2 separate regions of the Homo sapiens genome follow, and region 2 is linked to region 1. Evidence: fine-mapped expression QTL. A gene starts in region 1. The other region holds a variant in brackets. All regions are shown on one strand. Distances are between the middles of the regions.

Region 1 (12,638 bases):
CAACTGGAAATATTTAAGGTAATAGTTGTTCCATCAGCCTGGGTCCCTGAATGACCCTGAGGAATAGAGTCCTTTACTGGCTTGACTTGGACATATAGTATGAGCAATCAATCCATTGTTATTGTTTTAAGTTATTAAGCTTTTGGAGTTGTTTATTCCATATCAACAAGCAGCCTAGCCTAACTGAAATATATTATTGTACCAGAATTCATTCAATCATTCTTTGCCACGAACAAGAGTACTCCAAGAACATCCCTTCACATATGTCATTAGACACTGGTGTGAGTCTAGACAAATAGAGAAAAATATGGAAGGATACATAAAAGGTTAACATGGGTTCCATGGTTTTGTGGAGGATTTGTGGCTGAGAATTATTAGTATGGAGGAGGTTGGAGAGAGGAAGAAGATACAAAGAAAAGAAAGAGAGAGAGAAAGAAAATGAAAAGCTATATATAATATAATCACGTTTATGTAATTCTATAAAATTATAAATCTTTATGTAGTCCTACATAAACATATCTATATCTGTGTTTGAATTTTTAAAAAATAAATACTTAAATTACTAATTTATAAAAAGAAAGCCACCAGACCATTTAAGACCCTGATGAAAATGCAAATGTTATTTTGGATGCTCAAATACTAGGGGATTATGGAGCAGTTATTTAGACTTCTGCTCCGGTCACATTAAGGGATTAGTAACTGCATGCTGATGGAAAGAGTGAAAGCATAGCATTCAGGGCAGCTTGGTGTTGATGCTGGGGAAGAGGATGGGTGGCGTGGGGGACGGAAAGAGCTGTGGTGCCTTTTGATACTAGGCTAAAAATGGTACCTCAGAGGGAGAAGGAATAGCAAGAGGGCTTTGGGAAAGCAGGTGAGGATATTGATTTGAAGGAGGGAGGTACATGATTGAAGGAGGGAGGTGCATGAGCAGAGCTAGCAAGACTAAACTAGCCATCATCAACATATACCTGTGAGATCACCTGGTCTATCATCATTTTATAAGAAGGAGCTATTTTCTTTCAGATTATCTCCTGTAACTAGCACAATGCCTGGCTTGTCAGAGTAAGAACCCACAAAGCATTTGATGAGAGACTGTGTGTGTGTGTGTGTGTGTGTGTGTGAGAAAGAAAGAAGCAGGGAAGGGACTTGATTACATAGCTTATCAGTTGCAGAGCCAGGAGTAAAATTCAGACGCAGGCTCATTTTAGCTCCAGATTCTTCTAGGAATACTTGAAAGAGATCCACAGAGAGATAAGAGGAAGGGAAAGAGAGAAGGGAAGGAAGAAGGAAGGGAGGGAGACAGCGCTCTCTTTCTCTCTCTCTCTCCCTCCTTCTCTGTCTCTTTTTCCCCCTTCCCCTCTCCCAGAAGTGGAGGTGCATTGTAGGAGGTGCATTGTATTGAGGAGAACGACACCAGCGGGCCCTTCTCCAGTAATTCAGGTTGTGTAACAGAAGGACACTCCTCCTTCTGTATGTGCTCTGAAAGGACCCCCAGTGTCAGGAGCCTCTTAACTCACTGTCCATGAGCACTGGCCCCCTTTGGTTTTAACAGCCTACCAGGCCCTGGAATCTGACCTTGTCAAGCACCCCATGGGGTCAGGCAGTCTCCCAGTCCTCTCTGGACTCAACTGTCTGAAAAGGATTGGCCTGTAATTCCAACAAAATAGATTGTGAATATGTTGCTGAGGGAGTGCTTTTTTTTCTGTAGCCTTTCTGTAGTATGTGCGTTTTCCCCCAGAAAGAGGATCTTTGGAGCAATCCTCATGTCTTTCTTTTCCCTGGAAAGAGATCCTCAGAGCTATCTTCCTTTCCACAACTGACCACATCCTGAAGATAATATCTCCTGGACTGGCTATGCTAACTCTTCATGAAATGTAGAGAACTGGCCAAGGATTCGAAAGTGGTTTAGCAGAGGATCTGATAAATTCATCTATACGAAGGTGTTAGGGTCTGATAACCCTTTAACGTGTTATCTTTCCAAGCAGACTTGCATTATTATAGAGCACAGACAAAGTAAATTGTTATGCATCAGCTGATAAGGCAGTAGATGCTGGCTCAATTTTCCAAACATGAATATGTTTGATGTAAGTGGAACATAGAAACTAGGTGGTTAAGTATTAGATGATTTGGGATGTGGTAAGATACAGTGGATACACGTTATTAATTAAGAATTGGGTTTGGATTGTGTATCAAATGGTATGCTTTTACCCAGAAATAATAGATTACAGAACTAAAGGTGGCTGAAAGATTGAGGAAATTTTACTATATTATATAACAAGAACTCCAGTTTGGTTAATTTAATAGCAGGAATGTTTCCTCTTTCTGTTGTACCCCATATGATTGATTGCCAGGTGCTATAGCCTGTTCTATGTATTATGAAAATCTTAATTACAGAAAATATCTCTCCTTTCACTCCTTGGGCAACTTTTTTTAATAGAAGAGGCTTTACAGCATCCCTTTGTATTAATCAACATGGACTTACAGCCATAGAAATATCACCAGAATTCTATGGTCAAATATAATTAAGGCTTATTTCTTGCTCAGGTCATATTCTGGTTCAAACAGACTGGAGTGAGGAGAATGTTCTGTTCCATGAAGACATTCAGGGATCCAGGCTCCTTCTATTTGGTAGCTGCAGCGTCTTCTGGGGTTTCAGAATAACATGCTGGATCCTCTGCACCTGCCCTGTAGATGGAAGGAAACGTAAGACATCCTCTCAGTTCTCATTGGTGATGTGTGAGTCCCAAGCTTATGAATAAATGAGTCACTGTCAAGAGAATGAAAATCATCAGACTGGTTTATGTTGTGCACAAACCCTAAGGTGGCCCCCCAATATTGCCTGTCTTCTGGTATCCGCACTATCCGCGCCTTTGTATAATCCCTCCTGCCCTGAGTGTGAGATAGGAGACTTTTTCTAACCAATGGAAGGTGGCAAAGGTGTGTGAGTCACATCCTTGAGTATGTTTTGTTAGAATGTCACGTTTGTGATTTTATTACGTCACTTTATATAAGGCTCTGTCTCCCTAGGATTTTTTGCTTGCTGGCTTGATGAATTAAGCCAGGTGGAAAGGTTTTCTTTAAGTGGGCAGCCTCAAGCCAACAGCCAGCAAGGAATAAAAGCCCTATATTCCACAACCTAAGAAAATAAATTCTTCCAACAACCTGAGTAAGGTTGGAAGCTGATTCTTCTCCAGACTCCCAGATGAGAACACAGGCAGGCTGACTCTTGAGTCCAGCCTTGTGGAACCCAGAGAAGAGGGCCCAGGTAAGCCATGGCTAGACTCCTGACTGACAGAAATTGTGACATCACACATGTGTTATTTTAAGCTACTAAGTTGGTGGTAATTTGTTGTGCAACAATAGAATACTCATATAGCTTAGCTGAATCATGATTAACCACTGGAAGAAGAAGGAAGCCAAAGTATCTGATGCACTGGAGAATGAAAACCCGTTCAAAATCAGGTTCTTACAGGAAGGACAAGGGACACTTGGCTATATGTAGACCACAGACAGTATTTGATATAGTGTGTCTGCATTCTACTATATATATATATATATATATATTTTACATATATAAATGGAGGATCTTACATTATTTTGTTTTAACAGAAGTATAGAGAAGTTTTCTGTAAAATGGAAATGAGTATCATGAAGTTTTAAATGAACAGTGTAAAACAGAAGACATCAGCATTCATTAGGTCCCAGACCTCTTTGAGAATCTGATGAAATTCTGGACAACCTCTCCTCCCACAAACAAGATGTACTAGAATACCTACACATAAAATGTTGCATTCAATTTTGGAATGTGAAGAGATCATTTGAAGCCGATCCAGAGGCCTCTAAGGTAGGTATGTACTATACAGGGCTTGGAGACCTGGACTGCTCTGGTCATGCAGATGTGAGAGGGTGATATCAGTAGAGAGTTGTAGTGAGTAAGAAAATGTTCTCAGGAAACCTCAGCTTGTCGTTATATGGCAGAAACATGTTCAGATGTGTGACTCAGGGATTACTTAATATAGTTGGGGTTGGAAAGAATGAAGAGAGTATCCCAGGCATCAGGGCTGATGGGCAAGGATGGAGACAGAACCTTCTGGATCAGCCTGAGTCAGGAAGCAGCTCAGGATACAGAAAAGCCAGGGCTCTTGAGTTAAGGAGGGCACTGATGCAGTGCAAAGAGGAGAAGGTGAGAGAGCAGAGGAATAAGGGTGGAAGGACCAAGAGATACACCTGCCAGGGGGACTAGGGTATTAGCACCTCCGCCTTTCCTGTGCTGGGGTGAGAAGGAGGAAAAAGAAAGGACTAGTAGAAGCTGTTTCTAAGGGATCTCTGGCTTCTCCAGGAGAATTGCTTAACTTTGTTTTCGATTCAATAGCAATCCAAAAAAATTAATATAAGCATTTTTCCCGACCATATAGATAACTACCTTAAAACCAGCCATGGATTTCATTGTCCCCATTCGCCTTGGCATTGTGGTCATGTCTGTAACAATTAGCACTACAATCATTGACGCAGCCTAGATAGAAAAGAACAGAGGGGAAATTGCAATGTAAATGGCACACTTCTGCCAAGTGAAAACCAAATGACTTCATAGATGCTGGTGTGTTCGTGGGAGAATTGAACTTTCACAAGGCAGGTGGAAGCAGAGGCAAGCCAAACTCAGAGGACCTGTTGGATGTGCTCATGTCCTGGGTGGTTGACTGAGTTTTAGCAAAGCAATACCGACTGTAATATTGAGTTAATTTTGTTAATTTGAATTGTTTGGATTCTGTCATCTTCTTTGTATTTAATCTTTAAATTTGTTTTGGGTTTGTGGCTGCCACAGACAGCCTGCTCTTCTCTTTCTGGACATGTGGTAAAATGCCACGGTGGGGCCCCCTTCTGTTGTGCAGAACACATGATTAGTTCTGGCCAGTGAGTTGTGAGTGCGAAGTGACACTTCATAGCATTTAGCTGCAGTGTGAGTCTCTCCAGTACCGCTTTTGCCTCTAGCAACGTTTGAGATTGCACTAAGTATCTCCCTGTGTGCTGCTCCAGGTGCGTCCCAACTCCTCTGTGCCTTCGCTGGAAGCAGGTCTGGAGAAAATGGGTCCATGGTCTCCCTTCCATTCTAACTTCCGGTTGGATTTGGCCAATGGGGCGTTCTGGCAGGAAACTGCAGGGCAGGAGGCGAATGGGGTCAAAAGAGTAGGCATAAGTCTCTTGGCTCCGTGTGCCAGGTCCATTTGGGTTGGCTGCAACCCTCTGTCAGTCAGTCACTGTCCAGGTGCTGGTAACTGCTTCCCCACCTTGTCCCTTCAGGGTAAGGGTGGCTAGGCATTTCTAGCCTGCTGGTACTAAACTATAACTTCTTACCACTTTGCCTAACCCCCCTCTTTGCCTGGTAAGTAGTACAAATAAATAATAAACTTCTCCTCAAAGTCTTTAGTTTAGGTGTCCTCTTTGTCTCTTGCCAGGACTTGACTGGTGCAGTATTGGTGGCTGCTGGGTCAGATGAGCTCCCTGCTATTCCAAGAAACAATACATGTTTGCAGCCACTAAGATTTGAGGACTTTTGTTATTACTGCCTATCCTGACAGACTCAGGTGCTACAACTATTTAAGGGCATAAGTATAATAAATTAATATCTAGTTTTATGTTTTCAGATGTCTTAAAACTATTTAAGGGGATCCACGCAAAATGTTGTTCCCTTAAAAGAGGGCACATCTCTCTCACGTGGAGAAATACTGGTAAGAGGAAAAGACTTTCAAGTCAACCAACTTGATGTGGTGTGCAGGTGCTGCAATTTACTTCAGACATTGCATCTATAAAAGAAAGATAAGGTCTCGGCTGGCAAGATGGCCTAAGAGGAACAGCTCCAGTCTGCAGCTCCCAGCAAGATTGATGCAGAAGGCAGGTGATTTCTGCATTTCCAACTGAGGTACCCAGTTCATCTCACTGGGACTGGTTAGACACTGGGTGCAGCCCACAGAGGGCAAACCAAAACAGGGTGGGGCATTGAGCATGAGGAACCGTGCACTCCGGCCCAGATACTGTGCTTTTCCCATGGCATTCACAACCCGCAGACCAGGAGACCCCCTCTGGTGCCTACCCCATCAGGACCCTGGGTTTCAAGTACAAAACTGGGAAGCCATCTGGGCAGACACTGAACTAGCTGCAAGAGCTGTTTTTTTGTTCATACCCTAGTGGCACCTGGAACACCAGCATGACAACCATTCACTCCCCTGGAAAGGGTGCTGAAGCCAGGGAGCCAAGTGGTCTGGCTAGGCAGGTCCTACTCCCACAGAGCCAGCAAACTAAGATCCACTGGCTTGAAATTCTCACTGCCAGCACAGCAGCAGCCTGAGATCAACCTGGGACAGTCGAGCTTGGGGAGGGGCATCTGCCATTGCTGAGGCTTGAGAAGGTGGTTTTACCCCCCCCCCAGTGTAAACAAAGCCACCTGGAAGTTCAAACTGGGTGGAGCCCACTCAGCTCAGCAAGGCTACTGTGGCCAGACTGCCAGATTTCTCCTCTCTGGGTTAGGGCATCTTTGAAAAGAAGGCAGCAGCCCCAGTCAACCTATAGATTAAAACCCCCTTCTCCCTGGGACAGAAAACCTGGGGGAAGCGGCAGCCATGGGCACGCTTCAGCAGACTTAAATGTCCCTGCCTGATGGCTCTGAAGAGAGCATCGGACCTCCCAGCACAGCGTTCAAGCTCTGCTAAGGGTCAGACTGCATCCTGAAGTTGGGTACCTGATGCCCCTGTATCCTTGACTGGAAGACACCTCCCAGTAGGGGCTGACAGACACGTCATACAGGAAAGCTCTGGCTGGCATCTGGCAGATGCCCCTCCAGGATGAAGCTTCCAAAGGAAAGAACAGGCAGCAATCTTTGCTGTTCTGCAGCTTCTGCTGGTAATACCCAGGCAAATGGGGTCTGGAGTGGACCTCCAGGAAACTCCAGCAGACCTGCAGCAGAGGGGCCTGATTATTAGAAGGAAAACTAACAAACAGAAAGGAATAGCAGGTCCACTGAAAGACCCCATCTGAAGGTCACCAACATAAATCCACAAAGATGGGGAGAAACCAGAGCGAGAAGGCTGAAAATTACAAAAATCAGAATGCCTCTTCTCTGCCAAAGGATCACAACTCCTTGCCAGCAAGGGAATAAAACTGGGTGGAGAAACTGACAGAAGTAGGCTTCAGAAGGTGGGTAATAACAAACTCCTCTGAGCTAAAGGAGCATGTTCTAACCCACTGCAAGGAAGCTAAGAACCTTGAGAAAAGGTTAGACAAATTGCTAACTAGAATAACCAGTTTAGAGAAGAACATAAATGGCCTGATGTAGCTGAAAAACACAGCACGTGGACTTCATGAAGCATACCTAAGTATCAATAGCCAACTAAGTATCAATAGCCAAATCAATCAAGTGGAAGAAAGGATATCAGAGATTAAAGATCAAGTTAATGAAATAAAGAGAGAAGACAAGATTAGAGAAAAAAGAATAAAAAGGAACTAATAAAGCCTCCAAGAAATATGGGACTGTGAAAAGACCAAATCTACATTTGATTGGTGTACCTGAAAGGAACGGGGAGAATGGAACCAAGTTGGAAAACACTCTGCAGGATATTATCCAGGAGAACTTCCCCAACCTAGCAGGTCAGGCCAACATTCAAATTCAGGAAATACAGAGAATGCCACAAAGATACTCCTCGAGAAGAGCAACTCCAAGACACATAATTGTCAGATTCACCAAGGTTGAAATAAAAGAAAAAATGCTAAGGGCAGCCAGAGAGAAAGGTTGGGTTACTCACAAAGGGAAGCCCATCAGGCTAACAGTGGATCTCTCTGCAGAAACCCTACAAGCCAAAAGACAGTCAGGGCCAATATTTAACATTCTTAAAGAAAAGAATTTCCACCGCCGAATTTTGTATCTAGCCAAAGTAAGCTTCAGAAGTGAAGGAGAAATAAAATCCTTTATAGACAAGCAAATGCTGAGAGATTTTGTCACCACCAGGCCCACCTTACAAGAACTCCTGAAGGAAGCACTCAACGTGCAGTTTTGCCACTGCAAAAACCATCGACACTATGAAGAAACTGCATCAACTAATGGGCAAAATAGACAGGATCAAATTCACACATAACAATATTAACCTTAAGTGTAAATGGGCTAAATGCCCCCAGTGAAAAGACACAGACTGGCAAATTGGATAAAGAGTCAAGACCCATCTCTGTGCTGTATTCAGGAGACCCATCTCACATGCAAAGACACACATAGACTCAAAATAAAGGGATGGAGGAATATTTACCAAGCAAATGGAAAGCACAAAAAAAAAAAAGCAGGAGTTGAAATCCTAATCTCTGATAAAACAGACTTTAAACCAACAAAGAAGGCCATTACATAATGGTAAAGGGATCAATGCAACAAGAAGAGCTAACTATCCTAAATATATATGCACCCAATACAGCAGTACCCAGAATCATAAAGCAAGTCCTTAGAGACCTACAAAGAGACTTAGACTCCCACACAATAATAATGGGAGACTTTAACACCCCACTTTCAACATTAGATAGATCAACAAGAGAGAAAATTAACAAGGATATTCAGGACTTGAACTCAGCTCTGGACCAAGAAGACCTAATAGACATCTACAGAACTGTCCACCCCAAATCAGCAGAATATACATTATTCTCAGCACCACATAGCACTTACTTATTCCAAAATTGACCACATAGTTGGAAGTAAAGCACTCCTCAGCAAATGTAAAAGAAAGAACAGAAATCATAACAAACAGTCTTTCAAACCACAATGCAATCAAATTAGAACTCAGGATTAAGAAACTCACTCAAAACCACACAACTACATGGAAACTGAACAACATGCTCCTGAGTGACTACTGGGTAAATAACAAAATGAAGGCAGAAATAAAGATGTTCTTTGAAACCAATGAGAATGAAGACACAACGTACCAGAATCTCTAGGACACATTTAAAGCAGTGTGTAGAGTGAAATTTATAGCACTAAATGCCCACAAGAGAAAGCAAGAAAGATCTAAAGTTGACACCCTAACACCAAAATTAAAAGAACTAGAGAAGCAACAGCAAACAAATTCAAAAGCCAGCAGAAGACAAGAAATAACTAAGATCAGCGCAGAAGTGAAGGACATAGAGACATGAAAAACCCTTCAAAAACTCAATGCATCCAGGAGATGGTGTTTTGAAAAGATAAACAAAATAGATAGATAGACCGCTAGCCCGACTAATAAGACAAGAGAGAAGAATCAAATAGATGCAATAAAAAATGATATAGGGGATATCACCACTGATTGATCTCCCAGAAATACACACTACCAACAGAGAATACTATAAACACCTCTATGCAAATAAACTAGAAAATCTAGAAGAAATGGATAAGTTCCTGGACATACACCCTCCCAAGACTAAACCAGGAAGAAGTCAAACCCCTGAATAGACCAATAACAAGTTCTGAAATTGAGGCAGTAATTTAATAGCCTACCAATCAAAAAAAGTCCAGGACCAGACGGATTCACAGCTGAATTCTTGCAGAGGTTCAAAGAGGAGCTGGTACCATTCCTTCTGAAACTATTCCAAACAATAGAAAAAGAGGGAATCCTCCCTAAGTCATTTTATGAGGCCAGCATCATCCTGATACCAAAACCTGGCAGAGAAGCAACAAAAAAAGAAAATTTCAGGCCAATATCCTTGATGAACATGAATGGTGAAAATCCTTAATATAATGCAGGAAAACCAAATCCAGCAGCACATCAAAAAGCTTATCCACCACGATGATCAAGTTGGCTTTATACCTGGGATGCAAGGCTGGTTCAACATATGGAAATCACTAAACGTAATCCACCATGTAAACAGAACCAAAGACAAAAACCACATGATTATCTCAACAGATGCAGAAAAGGCCTTTGACAAAATTCAACACCCCTTCATGCTAAAAACTCTCAATAAACTAGGTATCAATGGAACATATCTCAAAATAATAAGAGCTATTTATGACAAATCCACAGCCAATATCATACTGAATGGGCAAAAACTGGAAGCATTCCCTTTGAAAACTGGCACAAGACAAGGATACCCTCTCTTACCACTCCTATTCAACATAGTGTTGGAAGTTCTGGCCAGGGCAATCAGGCAAGAGAAAGAAATAAAGGGTATTCAAATAGGAAGAGAGGAAGTCAAATTGTGTCTGTTTGCAGATGACATGATAGTATATTTAGAAAACCCCACTGTCTCAGCCCAAAATCTCCTTAAGCTGATAAGCAACTTTAGCAAAGTCTTAGGGTACAAAATCGATGTGCAGAAATCACGAGCATTCCTATACACAAATAACAGACAAACAGCCAAACCATGAGTGAACTCCTATTCACAATTGCTTCAAAGAGAATAAAATACCTAGGAATCCAATTTACAAGGGATGTGAAGGACCTCTTCAAGGAGAACTACAAACCACTGTTCAAGGAAGCAAGAGAGGACACAAACAAATGGAAAAACATTCCATGCTCATGGACAGGAAAAATCAATATCATGAAAATGGCCATACTGCCCAAAGTAATTTATAGATTCAATGCTATCCCCATTACGCTACCATTGACTTTCTTCACAGAATTGGAAAAAACTACTTTAAAGTTCATATGTAACCAAAAAAGAGCCTGCAGAGCCAAGACAAGCCTAAGCAAAAAGAACAAAGTTGGAGCCATCATGCTACCTGACTTCAAACTATACTACAAGGCTACAGTAACCAAAACAGCATGGTACTGGTGCCAAAACAGATATATAGACCAATGGAACAGAACAGAGGCCTCAGAAGTGACACCACACATCTACAACCATCTGATCTTTGACAAACCTGACACAAACAAGCAATGGGGAAACGATTCTCTATTTAATAAATGATGTAGGTAAAACTGACTAGTCATATGAAGAAAACTGAAACTGGACCCTTTCCTTACACCTTATACAAAAATCAACTCAAGGTGGATTAAAGACTCAAACGTTAAGGACTAAAATCATAAAAATCCTAGGAAAAAACCTAGGCAACACCATTCAGGACATAGGCATGGGCAAAGACTTCACGTCTAAAACACCAAAAGCAATGGCAACAAAAGCCAAAATTGACAAATGGGATCTAATTAAACTAAAGAGCTTCTGCACAGCAAAAGAAACTATCATCAGAGTGAACAGACAACCTACAGAATGGGAGAAAATTTTTGCCATCTATCCATCTGACAAAGGGCTAATATCTAAAATCTACAAAGAACTTAAACAAATTTTCAAGAAAAAAAACCCCCGTCAAAAAGTGGGCAAAGGATATGGACAGATGCTTTTCAAAAGAAGATATTTATGCAGCCAACAAACATTTGAAAAATGCTCATTATCACTAGTCATTAGAGAAATGCAAATCAAAACCACAATGAGATACCATCTCCTGCCAGCTAGAATGGTAGTCATTAAGTCAGGAAACAACAGATGCTGGAGAGGATGTGGAGAAACAGGAACGGTTTTACACTGTTGGTGGGAGTGTAAAGTAGTTCAACCATTGTGGAAGACAGTATGGCAATTCCTCAAAATACCATTTGACCCAGCAATCCCATTACTGGGCCAAAGGATTATAAATTATTCTACTATAAAGACACATGCACATGTATGTTTATTGTGGCACTATTCACAATAGCAAAAATTTGGAACCAACCCAAATGTCCATCAATGATAGACTGGATAAAGAAAATGTGGCACATATACACCATGGAATACTATGCAGCCATAAAAAAGGATGAGTTCATGTCCTTTGCAGGAACATGGACATAGAAACCATCATTCTCAGCAAACTAACACAAGAACAGAAAACCAACCACCACATGTTCTCACTGATAAGTGGGAGTTGAACAATGAGAAGACATGGACACAGGGAGGGGAACATCACACAGTGGGGCCTGTTGGGGGATGGCTAGGGGAGGGATAGCATTAGGAGAAATACTTAATGTAGGTGACAGGTTGATGGGTGCAGCAAACTACCATGGCACGTGTGTACCTGTGTAACAAACCTGCACATTCTGCATATGTACCCCAGAACTTAAAGTATAATTAATAAATAATGAATCCAACTCTTAGGAATGTAAGGTTTAGATAATGCATCTAAGACGCTCAGCAGATGACTTGGCATCTAGCATTTGCTCTATAAATGATGGCTAATATTAACTCATCAGTGATAGCTACAATTAAATTGTTACTAACAATAGCCTAAAGGATTATTGCCTAGAGAGTAACATATGGAGTAATCAGGCAGGGGATGAGGGAAAAGAAGGAGTTAGCCAGCAGGGAAGGGGTTGACTGTGGAACAAGTGTTCAGGATCAGGAGGCAGAAGACCTTTGCAGAAAGAGGAGGAGGGCCTGTGATTAGGCCAGCAATGGCAGGGTGGAGTCAGGCCAGGACCAGAGCTGATGGCTAAGGCACTCAAGTAGAAGCCGCTAGAGTATCTGTGGAGAAGCCTGGGGTATAGAGGTGATACAAGACTCACCATTTTAAAAAATGTTTTTTAGTGACCGGATCTCACTCTGGCACCTAGACTGGAGGGTACTGGCATGAACTCCTGGGCTCAGATGTCCTCCCACCTCCACCTTCTGAGTAG
Region 2 (17,276 bases), 390 kb before region 1:
AGTGTCCACTTGGGGTGGGGGGTGGCAGAAGAAACTCTGATCCTGTGTTTATTCCCTTTAGCTCCTGGCCCGGTCAGGATTCCTTCCCAAACTGGAGTCTTAATCACACAGAGCAATTACACGGAAACAGAACAACAAATCGGGATCGATACAGACTTGACTGTTGACTGGAAGAAACAAAATTTATGACTTGACTGGATTATGCTTACCAGCCAAGAATAGCTGTAATTCCAAGCAACCCCACCGACCAGGATCAATCATGGCATTTTATTACTTTGCTAAACCCTGCTAGCTCCCCACCCCACAACCCCCATCCAGTTAGAACCCAATCTCCAAGGAAAATATTGCACTTGTTATCAAATTTTAGAAAGAGAATTTATTGCAAAGGCAGATTGATTTAAAGCCTTCTTCTAAAGGGGAGCAGAGGGAGGTGGAAAGGTAAATTTTGCTTCGTCTTTTAGATTGGTTCTTTTGCTTATCCCTCCTTTTTATGACATAATCTGTTGTAGCATTACCCAGGGTCCTCTGGGCTAAAGCTTCTTGCCTGGCATTAGATAAGGGGGAGATATTGTCTGGGTGTAAAGTTTAAAGCCCGTGGCAAGGGCTCATTTTTCTCATTTCAGGCAAGGGAGAAAGGATATAAAATGAAAAGCAAGCAATCAATAAGGAAGAAAGATAGAGATCTTCCCCAAAAAAGGAAAAAAAGAAATCCTCACCTCACTGATGACTCCTCTAACTAAGACTTTAACAGGCGGATAATGAGCTCATAGATCCTCCGGTTGGGGCAGGGCTGAAGAGCAGACCCCCAATGCCATCATAGTCCACTCCCCCTCTCCTCTTGCATCCTGCAGTAATGGGATGCAACTCCCATTGCGAGCTTTTGGATGTTTTTATAGACAACTCAGCCTTCCTTATTCCTGTCAGTCAACCTTTAAAGTAAGAGCAGAATGGTTAATTACTTATCTGGCAATCAGGATGGGGAATTGTGGTGGTTTGTTCAAATCATGTAATAAATGCTGTAATCCTACCTGCTGAAGTGGAGGTATCTACCCGCCCCCCCCGCCCGGCCCCGTGGCTCATGACAAGATGAAGGAAAAGGTGAAAGTATTCTTTGGTTAATCCTGGAGTTTATGATAGACTAGTCTGATTTAATGGCTCTGCAGTCACTCTGTTGTTAGAAAATCAATATTTTCCTAAGAAAGTGTATGGACTGCCATAAATACACTCCCAGTTGTATGAACCTTGGCTACAGAACTTACATACTGCAGAGACCATAATGAGTGGTGAGGAAACAGCCTCCCAAAGCAGCAGGAAAGCAGAGCAGCCCATAAAGAAGCCTCAGGAGCTGTCTGTGGGTTCAGCTCCTCAGAGACCCCGAGAAGCTCTCCTGCAACCACTAGGGAGAGAGGGGAATCTATGATTGGTTTTCACTGTGGAGTTCTTTTGAGTCACACATTCTGGAAAAATAGAGGGGATCGTAGACAGGGAACGTACCCTCAGGGCCAGACACAATGCTTTCAAGAGGGATAGAGGGGAAAGAACCTCAAGAGAAAGGCAAACGATGTCATGGGATGAACATAGGAGTAGCAATTGGAACACTGAGTGTGAATCCTTCTCTACCACTTTCCTGGGGGGCCGCGAGCCAGTCATACACCCCAGCTTTACAGAGGAGGAAACTGAGGCTGAGATGGGTTTATCACAGCTAATACATGCAACTGTTTTGAGTTTAAAAGAAGGTACATGTTGGACATTGCCGTTTATTTTGGCTCCCCAGCATCAAATCCCGCCTTCTATGTTCAGGAATTTTACATCTCATTGAGTCTTGGTGAGAGTTAGAGCCCTCTGTCTGCTACAGAATCTGAAAATGTACTTCCCAGCATCCTTCACAGAAAGGGCATTTGGGCATTTTCTAGCCTCTTTCACAGGTAGGACACCGCATCCAGTGCAGCTGTGGTCAAACACACCTGCCCCAGATTGGAATCAGCTGCTCGCGTGGTAAAGAAGCAGCAATGGTGAGGAGTTCCCTGGCAGCAGTGATGGTTGTGGAGACCTCTGGATTCTGGGTGCAGCTGTGGGTGACCACTGTCCAATGGCTGCAGCATGGGCAATGCCAGCTGTGGAGTCTGGGGTTCAGCATGGGAGCGTGTTACCTTATAAGACTATCTGTAGATAGATTTTAAATGTCACATCTGCCTCTGCAGGCTTAGAGGTTTTGTGCACATTGTCATACTTAATTTTGTCACAAAGTGGACTCCTTCATCGGAGGGGATGTTTAGAGGTTTGTTATGAAACACGGGATGCTCTGTAAGGCCTCAGATTGTGGAGCTGACAAATGCACTGTGGGTGGGAAAGGCAATGAAACACCCCAAATACATCTGAAATACATCCATCTGGAATCACTGTCTTCTCCAGGAAATAGGGATCCAGTGTGAACATCTTATCACTAAGGGACCATGTGATCTGCTTGAGAGACGGCACCATGTCGGGGGCACAGTATCAATAATTCCTATTGTTGGCAGGTCAGACTTTCAGAAGAGTGGCAACGATCAGGCTTGCTGACACGGAACCCATGCTGCTCAGCCCATGCATGCATATCCTCTACCTCTGCTCTGTGACTGCTCCATGCACAGGCCCATTGTGCAAGAAATGGCTGAGGATGGGGGCTGAAGCACTTCCATGGGATGTGTCCTCATGTCCACTTGCTGGTTGAGAGCATCTTCTCAGGTGAATGCTCTCTTCTCCACACACTCTGTGCCCACTCCCATGAGTCCACCCTGCTTTATTCCCAGGCCTCTTTGTTTCGGATTGTTCAAAGTGACTCCTCCAAGGCCCCCAAGCAATGATTCAATCCATTCGCCACTGCCTAAGGGGAGACAGATATCTTTTCCTCAGGCTGCTTCACTCTCCATTCAGATATTTACTGCTCAAAGTTCTGCCCCCTGGAGGGTTTTCCATGTACCACCATCTTTCAGAACTATTCCTGAGGGGGCTGTGTTATTACAGCAGTCTCTTTTACACTCTTGGAAAAATAGCAAGCTGACCCTATCATGAACCAAGCCTAGGTGTTGTACACTCTAGTCAGCTGAGGAGGCCGGAAATATGAGCCAAAAAAGAGGTTCAGTGCACAGAGGTAGCTGGCATGGGGGTCCAGACCACCCTTCATTGTAGAATGGATTGCTGCTGTGCCCCTTCAACCTTATAACTTAATGTGTCTGAAAATATCCAGCTCATCTTTGGCACCTACAGTAATATAGTCATGGATATTGCATAGCCAGATGACTTAGTAGCATGCCAGGAGCTGCCTTTTCAATAGTGAGTAATGTTCTCCTGTAGATGTCTTGCTCCAAAGCCCTAGGATTCTGCACCTCAACTCTACAATTCAGGCTTTCTAGAAATGCCATTAAGCACTCTTATCTGCCACAAATATGTCTAAAAATCATGGAAGCTGATGAATTATATGGGCAAATCATTAGGGCCACTTGTACCATAACCTATTGCAAAATGCTGTTTGGCCCTGCTCACCACTCAAAACTGACAATTCTAAGTCATCAGGAGTCATAGCAGTATTCCTAAGAGGGACATGTGCTGCCATCAAAAATCCAAAGAAGCCCACAAGTGCTGAATCTTTTTCCAGGTGGTAAGAGATGCAATATACAATAATTTATCCTTTACCTTGGAGAGAATGGCTTGACAGACTGCATCCCACTGGGCCTCTAAAATCTTCAGGGATGGAGTCGGCTCCTTGATCTTTGCAGGTTTACTTCCCAATAACTGGTGCACATGTGTCTTTACAAGGTATCCAGAGATCTTGCTATTTTTCACTCATCGAGTCCAATTAATGTGGTTTCAGTACAGCCACCCAGATGACCCTATTCCAGGCATCCCTTTTCTGACTCTAGCATAGGAAAATTACCAGAGCTGTGAAATCAGCCATATTGAAAATTCTGTGACGTTTGGAAATCAGACTGTGGGCCTGATTTTTGGCAGTCCTCTCTTCATCTGCAGGAGATAAGGCCTTCTTTAAACACTTTCATAAAATGATAAATTTTATACAACCGTGTTGTGTCTTATTTTACTCTATTTATTATCAGTAATGGAACCCTTGTCACATGGCCAGCAAGTGATCTAATTTTAGAATTCCATTCTGAGAGTCTCCTTCTTAATACTACTTCTGGTACCGACTGACTTAAGATTTTCCAAGAAGACCCTGAGACAAGGATATAAGTACCAATATTTTATTTGAAGGAGATGTCAGCTATGCCGGTAAGTAGACAGTGAATGGGAAAAGGTCAATAAAGACTGTGTTTTCAAGCAAGTTTGCACTGTAAGCATCTGGAACATAATTTTTCTGGGCGATCTGTTTCCCTGCCCAAATCTCATGTCAAATTGTAATCCCCAGCATTGGAGGTGGGGCCTGGCAGGAGGTGATTCGATCATGGGGGCACATTTCTCCCTTGGTGCTATTCTTGTGACAGTGAATGAGTTATATAAAAGTGTATGGGACCTCCCTTCTCCTTCCCACCCTGTTGCTCCTGCTCTGGCCTTGTAAGACATGCCTGCTCCCCTTTTGCCTTCCACTATGATTGGAAGTTTGCTGAGGCCTCCCCAGAAACAAGCTGCTATGCTTCCTGTACAGCCTGCAGAACTGTGAGCCAATTTTACCTCTTTTCTTTATAAATTGTCCAGTCTCAGCTATTTCTTTATAGCAATGTGAGAATGGACTAATACAGCAATCTAGAAGCCAGTGTTGAATAAGCACTTCAAGATTATCTTGTCTGAGAGGTAAGAGAGGATGGATATTTGTTTATCAACTCCTCTCAGTCATTGTTTGAGGGCGCCAATGGCTAGAGTGTGACCCAGTGCATATGGGAAGTGGCTGGGTACCCGCAGGACTTGCTTCACTTCTGCTCAGCTATCTCTGTGCAGGACCAGGCCAATGGAGGCAGCGGTGTAAGGTATAGGGTGTGGGGCTATGTCACTGTGTGCCTCTGTGCTGTGCCTAACTTTGAGGGGAAATATACCAAAACAAGCTCTCAGGACAGACTGGCATATAGTAGATGTTCAGTAAATTAATCCTGAGTATTAGAGATCCGAGGGATTTAGGGAAGAAGGGGGCTATCAGAAGTATAGCAGACAAGAAGACTGACATCATTAGAGGGCTGGCCTGTGCTGCCCAAGTGCCAGGGCAAGAGAGTCCATGTGCCCTAGATCTGGGGAGATGTCTTTGTACCAGTCCATGATGCCCAGAGAATCTTTCAGAAAGGAATGAGTCCATTCTCCCTTTTCTATCCCGTTGCTTAGGGCAGGTAGACGGTGCAGGGTGGCTCCCTGGGCAGCAAAGTCTGGTTGAATCGTGAGGCTCAGAGGGCCTCGTTATCTCCTCCAGCCACTTGCCTGGAAGGCTCCTATCCTGGGAAACAAACCTGGGAAGTAGGAAGAGAGGAAGTGGCTGGAGAAAGAATGAGCAATTACACATGGCAAGCACCAGCCCCAAACATGCAATTACTTTTCAAACAGGCTATTTACAGCCCGTCAGACAGAGCCTGCAGGGAGTGGGAATTGTGTAGTCTGAGACTGGACAGGGCTCCGAGAGGCAGGGAAGTGAGCATCAGGGCTGGCTCATTGATGTGTGAGGCAGAGAGACAGACCCACAGCAGGGAGCCAGCAATTGGGAGAGGATGGAAAGGGCAGTCAAGATCCCCTCTCTGATCTGCCGCCTCACCACTGACACTTCTGCAGGAGCCCAGCTCCTCACTGTCCTGGTCAAGTCCACCAGGGCCACCCCCTCTCCAAGACTCCACCTTCACTGTCTTCCCCACCCACTGCCCCTCCTTGTCTTTCTCCTGGTCCTCAGCCTGGTTTCTACCGCCCTGGGCAAAACTCCCCTGAGTGCCCCCACCCACCCCAATAACTTACTTTCTGAACCATTGGAACCTTAATTCTTATTGCCATTCACTTCCCACAGATTGTTTTGTCAGTGTCATCTGTTCCCAGCTAAAATTCATTGTCTTATTTTTCATTTGTGTACTCCTGTGATCTTAGTCTAGTGAACAAGATCACTGAATCACTTCTGACTTGATCACCACATGCCTCCGTTTCCTTGTTCATGAAATGGGATTCAAAATAGTACTTTATTCTTAGGGTTGCTGTGAGGGCTATAGCAGTGACTGCTAGTTACGTGCTTAGCACAGTGCCTGGTTTAGAGTGCAAACTCAGTCAACATGGAACGGACACATGTGAGGCCTTGGCTTGCTAGGGACCTGTTCGGTGTTTCTGGGGCTCAGATAAAACCACGATGGTCAGGTCACTCTTTCACTTCTTCCACATTTTGACTCATTTAAGTTAGAATAGGAAAAATGTATATAATTATAGGATGTATTTTAGAAGAGTTTCTTGCAAGTCTTTTTGGTTTGGAACCATTTAAATTAGTTCTGCATAGTCAAGACCTAAAGACCTGTATTCCAATACCTTTATTGGAACTGCTTATATTAGTATGTATAGACAAGATCTGAAAGTCCTCTTTTGTGCTTACTAGAGAGGAATTTCAGAACTGTTATATATACCCAATACAGGTTTTGGTCAGCCTCATTTTCAAAAGGGATTGTTCCCCAGGGTCATTTACGATTATTAGAGTGAGGCAGATCTTCAAAGGCATGTCTGTGTTAGGGGAAGCAACTGGGACCTTATTGCCATGCTGGGTTGATTGTGCTGAAGATGAGAACATTCGATGATGTCATTTAGGGATGGCCTTGGCAGATACTGCACCTGCTCCTCTTTTAGGTATGGCTCCTCTTAGTTAGATACCGGATTGGGACAGCTGTCCCCTTTGCCTAAGTATAAAGCAACTCTGAGCCCCTCGAGGAAAAACACTGGAGAGCTAAAATCAGAGCAGTGCTTAGATCTTAGCTCAGACTTCATGCTGCATCTCCTCTGTTTGTCTTCCACATCCTTCTCTACCCCAATCTTTGCTCTCAGTCCAGGGACATTGACCTCTGGGGACTGTCTCAATTTGCCCTTTTGCCCTCTGGTTTCTACCTGGGTTTAGCCGATGGGAGGCACCAACAGGAAATCAGAGAGAGAGGTTGGAATAATTATTCCTTTGGTTCTTTCCTTCTGTCCTGCAGATTGGCAGAGGTTGATCTCTCTGTGTAAGGCCACAGCTTCACCAGGGCTGCGGTCACCTATAACTTTCTAGTGTCTTTCTGGCGGCTATTCCCTCCTTTGCCTTGAGAGCCAAGGGATGGGAACAGCCCTTGTTGTCCTGACATATTTCACTACTTCTCTTAATGCTTCTCCTAACTTTGTAAAACAGCCTCTGCATTAAACTTTGCTCAAACATTCAGTTGTTCTCCCCCTGACATCTATGAGGCAGCTTGGTACAAGTGGAAAAGAGTGTAGGTTCTGCAGTGAGATTTTCTGGGTTCATACACCACTTAACATTTTAAGTTTCTCTTTAAAAATTAATTTTAAATCTGTAATTGATATATAATAAGCATGCATATTTATGGGGTACAGTGTGATGTTTCAATACATGTATACATTGTATAATGATCAAATCAGGGTAATTAGCAGATCCATCACTTTAAACATTTATCATTTCTTTGCAGTGACAACATTCAAACTCTTCTAGTTTTCCCAAAATATACACTACATTGTTATTTGCTATAATCACCCTACTGTGCAATAGAACACAAGAACATATTCTTTCAGTCTAACTGTAACTTTGTAACTATCGACCAACCTCTTGCATTACTCTCCTCTCTGCCTCCCAGCCTCTGGTAATCACTATTTACTCTCTAATTCTATGAAATCAACGTTTTAAGATTCCACATATGAGCTAGACATACAGTGTTGGTCTTTCTGTGCCTGGCATATTTCACTTAACATAATGTCCTCCAGGTTCATTCACCCTGTCGCAAATGACAGGATTTCATTCTGTTTTATGGCTGAATAGTGTTCTATTGTGTGTGTGTGTGTGTGTGTGTGTGTGTGTATATATATATATATATAAAATTTTCTGTATTCATTCTTCTGTAGATGGGCATTTAGGTTGATTTCATATCTTGGCTATTGTAAATAGCACTGCAGTAAACACAGGAGTGCACATATCTCTTCAATATACTGATTTCATTTCTTTTGGATATACACCTAGCAATGAAATTGCTGAATCATTTAATAGTTTACATTTTAATTTTTTGAGGTACTTCCATACTATACTATAAAGGCTATAGTTTTTTTACATTCCTACCAATAGTACCTAATAGTTCCCATTTCTCCACATCCTCACCAGCTCTTGTCACATTTTGTTTTTTCGATGATAGCCATCCTAACTGGGGCAGAGTGATATCTCATTGTGGTTTTGAATTGCATTTCCCTGATAATTAATGATGTTGAGGACTTTTTCATGTATCTGTTGGCAATTTGTATGTCTTTTTTTGAGAAATGTCTATTCAGGCTTTTCCCCCTTTTTAAATCTGATGATTATTGTTGTTTGCTATTGAGTTGTTTGAGTTCCTTATATAGTCTGGATATTAACTACTTGTTAGATACACAGTTTTTCTCTCATCCCGTAGGTTGTTTCTCCACTCTATTGTTTCTTTTCCAGTACAGAAGCTTTTTAGTTTGATGTAATCCTATTTGCCTATTTTTGCTTTTGTTGCCTGTGGTTTTGAGGTCTTATTGAAAAAATCTGCACTCAGTCCAATTTTATGCAGTGTTTCTCCAATGTTTTCTTGTAGTAGTTTTATAGTTTCAGGTCTTGCATTTAAGTCTTCAATCTATTTAGAGTTGATTTTTGTATATGGTGAGAGATAGGGGTATAGTTTTATTTATTTATTTATTTATTTATGACAGAGTCTTACTCTGTTACCGAGGCTGGAGTGCAGTGGTGTGATCTTGGCTCACCGCAACCTCCGCCCCCAGGGTTCAAGTGATTCTCCTGCCTCAGCCTCCCGAGTAGCTGGGACTGCGGGTGTGCACCACCATGCCAGCCTATTTTTTTTTTTTTTTTTGTATTTTTAGTAGAGACAGAGTTTCACCATGTTGGCCAGACTGGTCTTGAACTCCTGACCTCAAGTGATCCACCCACCTCAAAGTGCTCAAAGTCTCTCAAAGTGCTGGGATTACAGGTGTGAGCCACTGCACCCAGCCAGGGGTCTAGTTTTAATCTTCTGCAGGTGTATATCCACTTGTCCCATCGCCATTTATTGATGGGATGTCCTTTCTCCAATGTGTGGAAGACATGTGTGGAGTTGAGCGAAGATATTGAACTGTGTAATGGTTAATACTGAGTGTCAACTTGATTGGATTGAAGGATACAAAGTATTGATCCTTTGTGTGTCTGTGAGGGTGTTGCCAAAAGAGATTAATATTTAAG[C/T]CGGTAGGCTGCGGAGGGCAGATTCACCCTTAATCTAGTGGACACAATCTCATCAGCTGCCAGCGAATATAAAGCAGGCAGAAAAAACGTGAAAAGGAGAGACTGGCCTAGCCTCCCAGCCTACATCTTTCTCCTATGCTGGGTGCTTCCTGCCCTCGAACACTAGACTCCAAGTTTTCCAGTTTTGGGACTCAGACTGGCTCTTCTTACTCCTCAGCTTGTAGACAGCCAATTGTGGGACCTTGTGATCATGTAAGTTAATACTTAATAAACTATTCTTTAAATATATATATAATATGTGTGTGTGTGTGTGTGTGTGTGTGTGTGTGTGTGTGTGTGTATCCTATTAATTTTGTCCCTCTAGAGAACCTGACTAATACAAACTGGTATTGAGCTGACCGATCTAAAGAAAAATTTCCAGGGAATAAGATTGGGCAGATAATAGCTAAGAATACTGGAGGATGCTGGGGAGTAGGAGGGGTATAGAAGTATTCTTTTTTTTTTTTTTTTTTTTTTTTTGAGACAAGGTCTCACTCTGTCACCCAGGCTGAAGTGCAGTGGCATGATCATGACTCACTGCAGCCTCAACCTCCTGGGTTCAGGTGATCCTCCCAGCTAAGCCTCCTGAGTAGCTGGAACTAAAGGTGTGCACCACCATGCCCGGCTCATTTTTTTTTCTTGTATGTTTTGTAGAGACAGAGTTTTGTCATGTTACCCAGGCTGGTTTTGAACTCCTGGACTCAAGCAACCCTCCCACCTCAGCCTCCCAAAGTGTTGGGATTACAGGCATGAGACACTGCCTGGCCAGAAGTATTATTTTTGAGTGTGGTTATTTGAAGAAGTATAGGCAGGACTTTTTGGCCAATGTAATATTCCTCCAAAGTGCTGGAAGGCTAGAATTCCATTCAGCTCTCCAATCTTCCAGGCATAGGTGAACTCTATTCTAGACTGGAGTTTCTCGTCCCACATTGCCAATTCAATTTTTCCTCAGTTTGATTCTTCTTAGAGTGGTTGATGAGCTTCTGTTTCTCTTATAATATGTGGGACATCTTGGACCCTCCATCTTACACCTTCCCGACTTACTTACCTGTGACTTTGGCAATTACTGCAACAGCAGGTTGCATGCACAGGTAGTCTGATCAGAGTGGCTAGAGCCTTGTGACTTTTCTCTTACTTTCTGCTCTTGAGCTTCTCTGTGTCTACCTTGGAGGATGCTGTGGGATATTGCTCAGTTGTGCTGGTTCAAATACCCATGTGGAAGAGCTAGGGAGTTAAACAATGTCTGGGCAAATTCTTTACCGGTGGATAAGGAGCCAATGCATGAATATTTCCCTCTCCTTATTGTGGACAATTCTGAAGCAGGGTACACAACTCTTCAAGGGCCTGGTGGGATTGAGTCTCAGTTATTTGCGACTACTGAATCAACTCAGTCATACACACTGGGATTGACTTTTTCTCCTTTCCCTTTTTACTCTTCCCATTCCCTCCAACCCATTCCATAGGATTGCCATCCCAAATAAACTACATACTGGCAAGCCCTTGTCACAAGTTCTGTGTTGTTTTATGCATGATGAATATATTCTAAGCTAAGACATCATTTTATTTGGTATTCAGTTATTATATGCATTTTATGGTTGCATTTTATGCTACTTTAATGAACATAGTTTATACTCTCTTAATAATCCACAAATAGCTGGAAGTGAGCCCTTCATAAATAAGACCACGATTTCAACAATGAGTCTTAATGGCCATCTTCTTCAGTGAGTTACAAATTCCAGCAAGCTTGGCATCTGTTGAAGCAGGATGGTCCAGTGGAAAGAACGATAAAGCGGGAGTCAGGAGCATCAGCTCTTTGATCCAGCCCTATCATTCTCTAATTATATGATTAAAAATACTTGTTTTAACAGCTGTATTGAGATATAACTTATATACCACAATAATCACCCAATTAAGGTGTATAATTCAATGGTTTTGAGTATTTATAGAGTTATACAAACATCTCCATAATCTAATTTTAAAACATCTTTGTTACCCCCCAAATAAATCTTGTGCCCATTAGCAGTCACTCCTCACTCCCCTAATTGTCCCTTCTCACTCCCCAGCTCTTTCCCCCGCCTTCCAGATTCAGGCAGCAACTGATTTACTTTCTATTTCTATAGATTTGCCAATTCTGGACATTTTGTATAAATTGGATCAGGCAGTTTTGGTCTTTTGTGACTAGATCCTTTCACTGTGCAGAAAGTGTTTGATGTTGATCTATACTGTAGTGTTGGCTGTGTGATTCTGAGTAACCACTAACCTCTGTGTCCTGCTTCCTCCTCTGCTCCCTGGAAGAGGTCTCTGAGGTCCTTTCCAGCCCTAGGAGTCTCAGGCAAGCAATGTTAAGTAGCACAGAAACCTAGAGGAACTATGGGCCCAGTGTTTAATTTTTCAGCTATGAGCTAAAAGAAGAGGAACAATGTTTATTGCTGAGCTCCTATTCGACAGTTGATACCCGTGTGTGCACAGAAACCAATTACCTATGAGGAGTAATTGAAATCATTAATACCCACAAACAAATGTGTCTATTCTGCAAGTAATTTGCAGTAACATTTAGTAATTGATAGTAATTTTTAGTAATTAAACACTAAGTAGTTAATTTGCCAAGCTACACAGCCATTTTAATGGGGTTCCTTGGTGTTCCCACAGCAAATCTTAATTACTTAACCCAAGCACCACGAATATTTCTGTCATTTCTGAAAAAATATACAGCATGTGCTATTCTGGGTAAGCTGCAGTAGAGAGGAAGCCAAGGAGAGGAATTATTTTCCTGGGCAGTAGTAATTAAAAGACTGAAGCTATCGTTTGGGCCAATAAAAGGTCGTGGAGTGAATCCCTGTGTGTGTGTGTGTGCGTGTGTGTGTGTGTGTTTGTGTGTGTGTGTATATATATATTTATCTATCTATCTATCTATCTATCTATCTATCTATCTATCTATCTAATCTATCTGTATTTTGTCTCTGCTTCACAGAAAGTCAAAGTGAAATCTGGGTTATAACAACTTATTTCTCTCTCCTCCTTCTCCTAAATGTTTTGGCCCAGACTTTATGAGGTTTGTTCAGGCTATTACAAACCCACGTCTGAGTTGCTTGTGGCAGGGAGCAATCATAGAAACCCACTTTTTTCTTCAGGATACCATCTGCAGTTCTGATTTTGATATTCCCATTCAATAGGCCATTCGTAGTGATTTATTAGCTGTAGAGGACAGATAGTAGCTTGCTCAGCATCTTGCCCTCCTTCCTTTTTCTTCACAGTACCCCAAATTTATTCCGGAATCCATCCCTTTTCCTTGCAGCCTATGTGATTGGGTGAAGCTCTTGCTGGGGTGGATCTTGATTAGTCTAAGCCAGTCATGGTGATTCCACTACAGGCTCTTGCTGGAGACCGGTTCAGGAAGTCAGGCTGCTATTGGTCCGGGAGTGATCATGTGACTCTAGCTGGCTCAGTGAGAGAGAAGAAAAGGGCGTTTCTTTCGCAGGTAGGAGAGAGACTGTCTTCCCTCTCCCTGCCTTTCTGGGTATGAGGAAGGGAGCACATTGGCTGCAGGGGCTGCAGGCAGCCATCTTGACGCCACGTGGGAAACGAGGTCTCAGAACAAGGTCTACCCAAAGATGGATGGAGTCAAGAGAACTGCAGAGAAACTGAACCTAAGTTCTACTGTGCCTAGAGTTCTATTTTCTCAACTTCTAGTCAAGCGAGATGATACATTTTTCTCAGGTTTTTGTCAAGTTTGAACATGGCTGTCTGCCATTTGCAGCCCCAAGTATCTTGACTCATTTGACACCAGTCTTCATCTTTCACCCTAATCCAATTGCTGCATTCCTGAAATAAGTCTCCATACTTGGCTCACGTATTATTGTCACGGCTTGTGCCACTTGTCTCTTTCTGGGGGAGATTCTGCACAAGCAACACTGTGAACTTTCAAGCTCGGCTCCAGGCCCACCTCCTCTGTGGAGCCTTCACTGAGCACCTCAGTCCTCTATGAAATTCTGTAAGTTGTTGTCTGAGCTCCGTATTTGACATTCCTCATTTACAGACAGCATGTACACATCTTCTCAACTACATTCTGCACAACAGTGATGGTGTCATCTGACCTGACAATCCGGAGGGGAAGATGAACTAGACACCCATAGAAACTAACACCAAGAGGTCTTGTCGAGGTAGAAAAGAGAGAGAAGTCTGGCAAACACTGCAGACATTCAGAGGAGGAGGAGGCCATTTTGGACAAGTTTAGCTGGGAAGATGGGGAAGTTTCTTGAAGAGTTAGAACCAAAATGGGAGCTTTAAAATGCAGAGGATAAAGGTTATATGTGAATGTATTCTTTTATTCATTTTGTTATTATTTATTGAACATCTACTCTATACCAAGCATCGTGCCAATTTTTTCCTCCCATGTATCTCGTCTTATTTAAATTTCAAAACAACATCTATGGAATATATATGGTTTCCATTTTACAAATGGAGATACTTGTCATCAGAGAGGTATATAATTTTTCCCCAAAGTTGGGAATAGGCATCAAACCTAGATCTCTTCACCCAAAGTTCAAAGCAGTTTCTATACCTCACAGCTACAGTCCAACTCTCATCAAATGGGGTCAGCAAATAGCGTCAGCAAACATTTTTTCTAAAGGCCAGATAGCAAATATTTTAGGTTTTATGGGCCAGTCTCTGTTACAGCTACACCATTCTGCTGCTGTAGTAGAACAGCAGCTATAGACAATGTGTAAATAATACATGTTCCAATAAAACTTTACTTAGAGCATTAACATATAAATTTAACATAATTTTCACATGTCGCAAAACAATATTTCTTCTTTTTTTTTGACTCCTAACCACAAAAAAACGTAAAAACAGGCAGTAGGCCAGAGTTGGCCATAGTTTGCTGACCCCCTTGTTTTTTCCTGCCAGGATATTTTTATTTTTTATTTTATTTATTTATTTTTTTTGAGATGGAGTCTTGCTCTGTCGCCCAGGCTGGAGTGCAGTGGTGTGATCTTGGCTCACTGCAAGCTCCGCCTCCTGGGTTTACACCATTCTCCTGCCTCAGCCTCCCGAGTAGCTGGGACTACAGGCGCCTGCCACCACGCCCAGCTAATTTTTTGTATTTTTAGTAGAGACGGGGTTTCACCGTGTTAGCCAGGATGGTCTCGATCTCCTGACCTCGTGATCTGCCCGCCTCAGCCTCCCAAAGTGCTGGATTACAGGCATGAGCCACCGCGCCCGGCCCCTGCCAGGATATTTTTAATTTCGTGTAGCAAGAACATTTAACATAAAGTCTACGCTTTTAGCAAATTATGACGTTTACAGCACAGTATTATTAACTTGAGGCATGATGTTTTACAGCAGATCTCTAGAACTTACTCATCTTGCATTATTGAAGCTTTATAACATTGAATAGCCATGCCCCATTCCCTTTCCCTGTAGCCTCTGGCAGCCCTCATTCTACTCTCTGTTCCTATAAGTTTGACTATTTTAGAGACCTCATGTGAGTGAAATCCTACAGTATTTGTCCTTCTGTGACTGGCTTATTTTACTTAGCATAGTGCCTTCCAGGTTCACCTATGTTCCCAGGACTTCAAATCATGAGACTATGGAGAAGTAGGCAGGGAGGTTGAGGGACACTTACTTCTCCCACGTCTCCCTCTCTCCCATGCCCAATCCTCACCACCTCACAGAGCTCACGGATGATAGTAGAAACCTCCCCAGCAGCGTTGGCCTTTATATCCCGGTGTGCTCCATTGGCTGGCTCCAACCGGTTTATCAGCTCAAGACTGTTAATTTAGCAATCTGCAAAGGTCCCAGATGAAAAGCTTTCGCCTGCTCTCTTTCTAGAGCCTGACATAATTAGCTACATTTCAGCCCCACCTTCTATTTTCTCCTGTAACGAGCAGTGCCAATCCTGAATCACTTTAAGGGAGCGAGCTGCCCCTTGGTATCAATTAAAAGGGAAATGCTTTTCAATGCATAAACTATAACAATTGTGAACAGGTACAAAGAAAAATCTAGAGGTTCTGGCACTGCTAACAGACCATGGCACTTTGCAGAGATTGTCTTACACGCTTTTGGAGGAAAAACAAAAACAGGTCCAGCATGCTAGGTAATATGTTACTCCTGAGGGTAAAGGCTGCGCTTGAAAATCTACAAGCCAGAGATTTGGGAGCAGTCCAGTGAGCAGGCCATTCGTGTGTGCTGAAATAGTTCAGCTGGGTCTTCTTGTCCTCTCAGATGAAGAAACCATGTACAGCCCTAGTGAGTCACGTCTGGGAGAAATGATTTACGATGAGTGTTTTAGCCTGGTGTGATGTTACATCTCTCTCATTTTCCTCCCCTGAAGTGAACAATCATGCAAGCCTTTTCCTAGGTAGGGGGTGACGGGGAGGTAGTGGGAGGCTTCATTAATCTCTGGGTTCTCCAGGAAAGCCAATTTGATCATCGTGGAATATCAAGCACTCTGAGTGTATTGTTGCTTGTTAGCTTGGATGTGTGCCCTCCAGAAACTCCATGCTGGGAAGACTAGTCCACGTGCTAGGGCTGGATGTGAGAGGAGGGGCTGGGAGAGGAGGGGTGTGGTTGCCAATCTATTCAAATTATACCTGCAGCCAAGCCTTGTGTGGATCAGGTAGATACCTGTTAACAGAGTCACCCAGGCAAAACTGGGATGCTGGCAGGGTTATTTTTTGGGTCCTCCAGCTGATTCTTTGAAGTCTTGTCATCTCTTTGAGTCATCCTGTCCTTAATTTTCTGAGATTGGGAGCAGTCATTTACATGTTAGTGTCAGTGCCTTTTGGCACCGGGACATCTGTTTCTCTCTTACTTCTGGTGTTAAAGAAAAAATTATTTGATGATACTGTACTTGTTAAAGCATGGTAAGTTATATGGTTTGGCTGTGTCCATACCCAAAATCTCATCTTTAATTATAATTCCCATAGTCCCCACGTGCCAAAGGAGAGACCAACTGAAGGTAATAGAATCGTGAAGGGTGATTTTCCCTTCTATTCTCATGATAGTGAGTGAGTTCTCACGAGATCTGATGGTTTTATAAGTGTGTGGTAGTGCGTCTTGTGTTCTTTTTCTTCCTGCCGACTTGCAGAGAAGGTGCATTGCTTCCCTTCACCTTCCACCTCATGTGCAAGCTTCTTGAGGCCTCCCCAGCCAAGCAGAACTGTGAGTAAGTTAAACCTATTTCCTTTATAAAGTACCCAGTCTTGGGCAGTTCAGTTTAGCAGTGTGAGAACGGACTAATACAGTAAGGAAGACTTTATTCAGGACAATCACAATAGCTATATAACCACTGCAATGGGGTCTTATAGTGGGGGAGAGAGACTGGGCTCAACTCTGAATACAGCATGAACAAGTGGAAATGTACAGCCAAGGAGCAGTGCGGGGCTTAGTGGATGGAAAATTGTTAAGAGTAAGCATCAGGGGCGCTATAGTTTGAATGTCCCTCCCAAAACTTCTGTTGAAGTTTAATTGCTATTGTGATAATATTAAGAGATGAGACCTTTAAAAGGTGATTAGGTAATAAGGGCTCCACCTTCATGAATGGATTAATGTCAGTACCATGAGAGTGAGCAACTGATAAAAGGATAAGTTTGTACTTGATTTTCTGTCTGTCACACTCTCAATTCTACTTTCTGCTATGAGATGAGCCTCGCCAAATGCTGCACCATGTTCTTCACTTCTCAGCTTTCAGAAAGCTGAGCAAAATACATTTCTATTTCTTAAAAATGACCCAGTCTGTTGTATTGTTATAGCAGGGGAAAACAAACTAAGACAAGGGGTAAAGACAATTCTGTATTAACCAATCTCACATGATTCTGGTTAAAGACAGCCCAGGTGATCAGACTTCACCTAAGGAATG

Which allele goes with the higher level. Positions count from the first base shown, and alleles are read on the strand shown. Sizes are in standard deviations (SD) of each study's normalised expression.
As copies of T replace C in region 2, the expression in liver of the gene that starts at base 3,402 in region 1 goes down (large effect, 1.0 SD a copy in GTEx).

Evidence for each region.
Region 2: its variant is fine-mapped to the expression of LINC03023 in liver (GTEx, PIP above 0.99).

What each region holds. Positions count from the first base shown.
Region 1 is chr8:20,950,232-20,962,869 of GRCh38, forward strand. LINC03023 (long intergenic non-protein coding RNA 3023) reads left to right here and starts at 3,402. Exons shown (of 5, transcript NR_130774.1): 1 at 3,402-3,462; 2 at 3,610-3,844; 3 at 5,454-5,603; 4 at 12,550-12,638. LOC105379316 (a long non-coding RNA gene) reads right to left here. Exons shown (of 4, transcript XR_007060845.1): 3 at 4,424-4,513; 4 at 2,414-2,685.
Region 2 is chr8:20,561,406-20,578,681 of GRCh38, forward strand. No RefSeq gene overlaps it. Among named protein-coding and RNA genes, the nearest start is that of SNORD3F, 45 kb to the right of the region's middle. The variant C/T (reference allele first, on the strand shown) is at 9,377.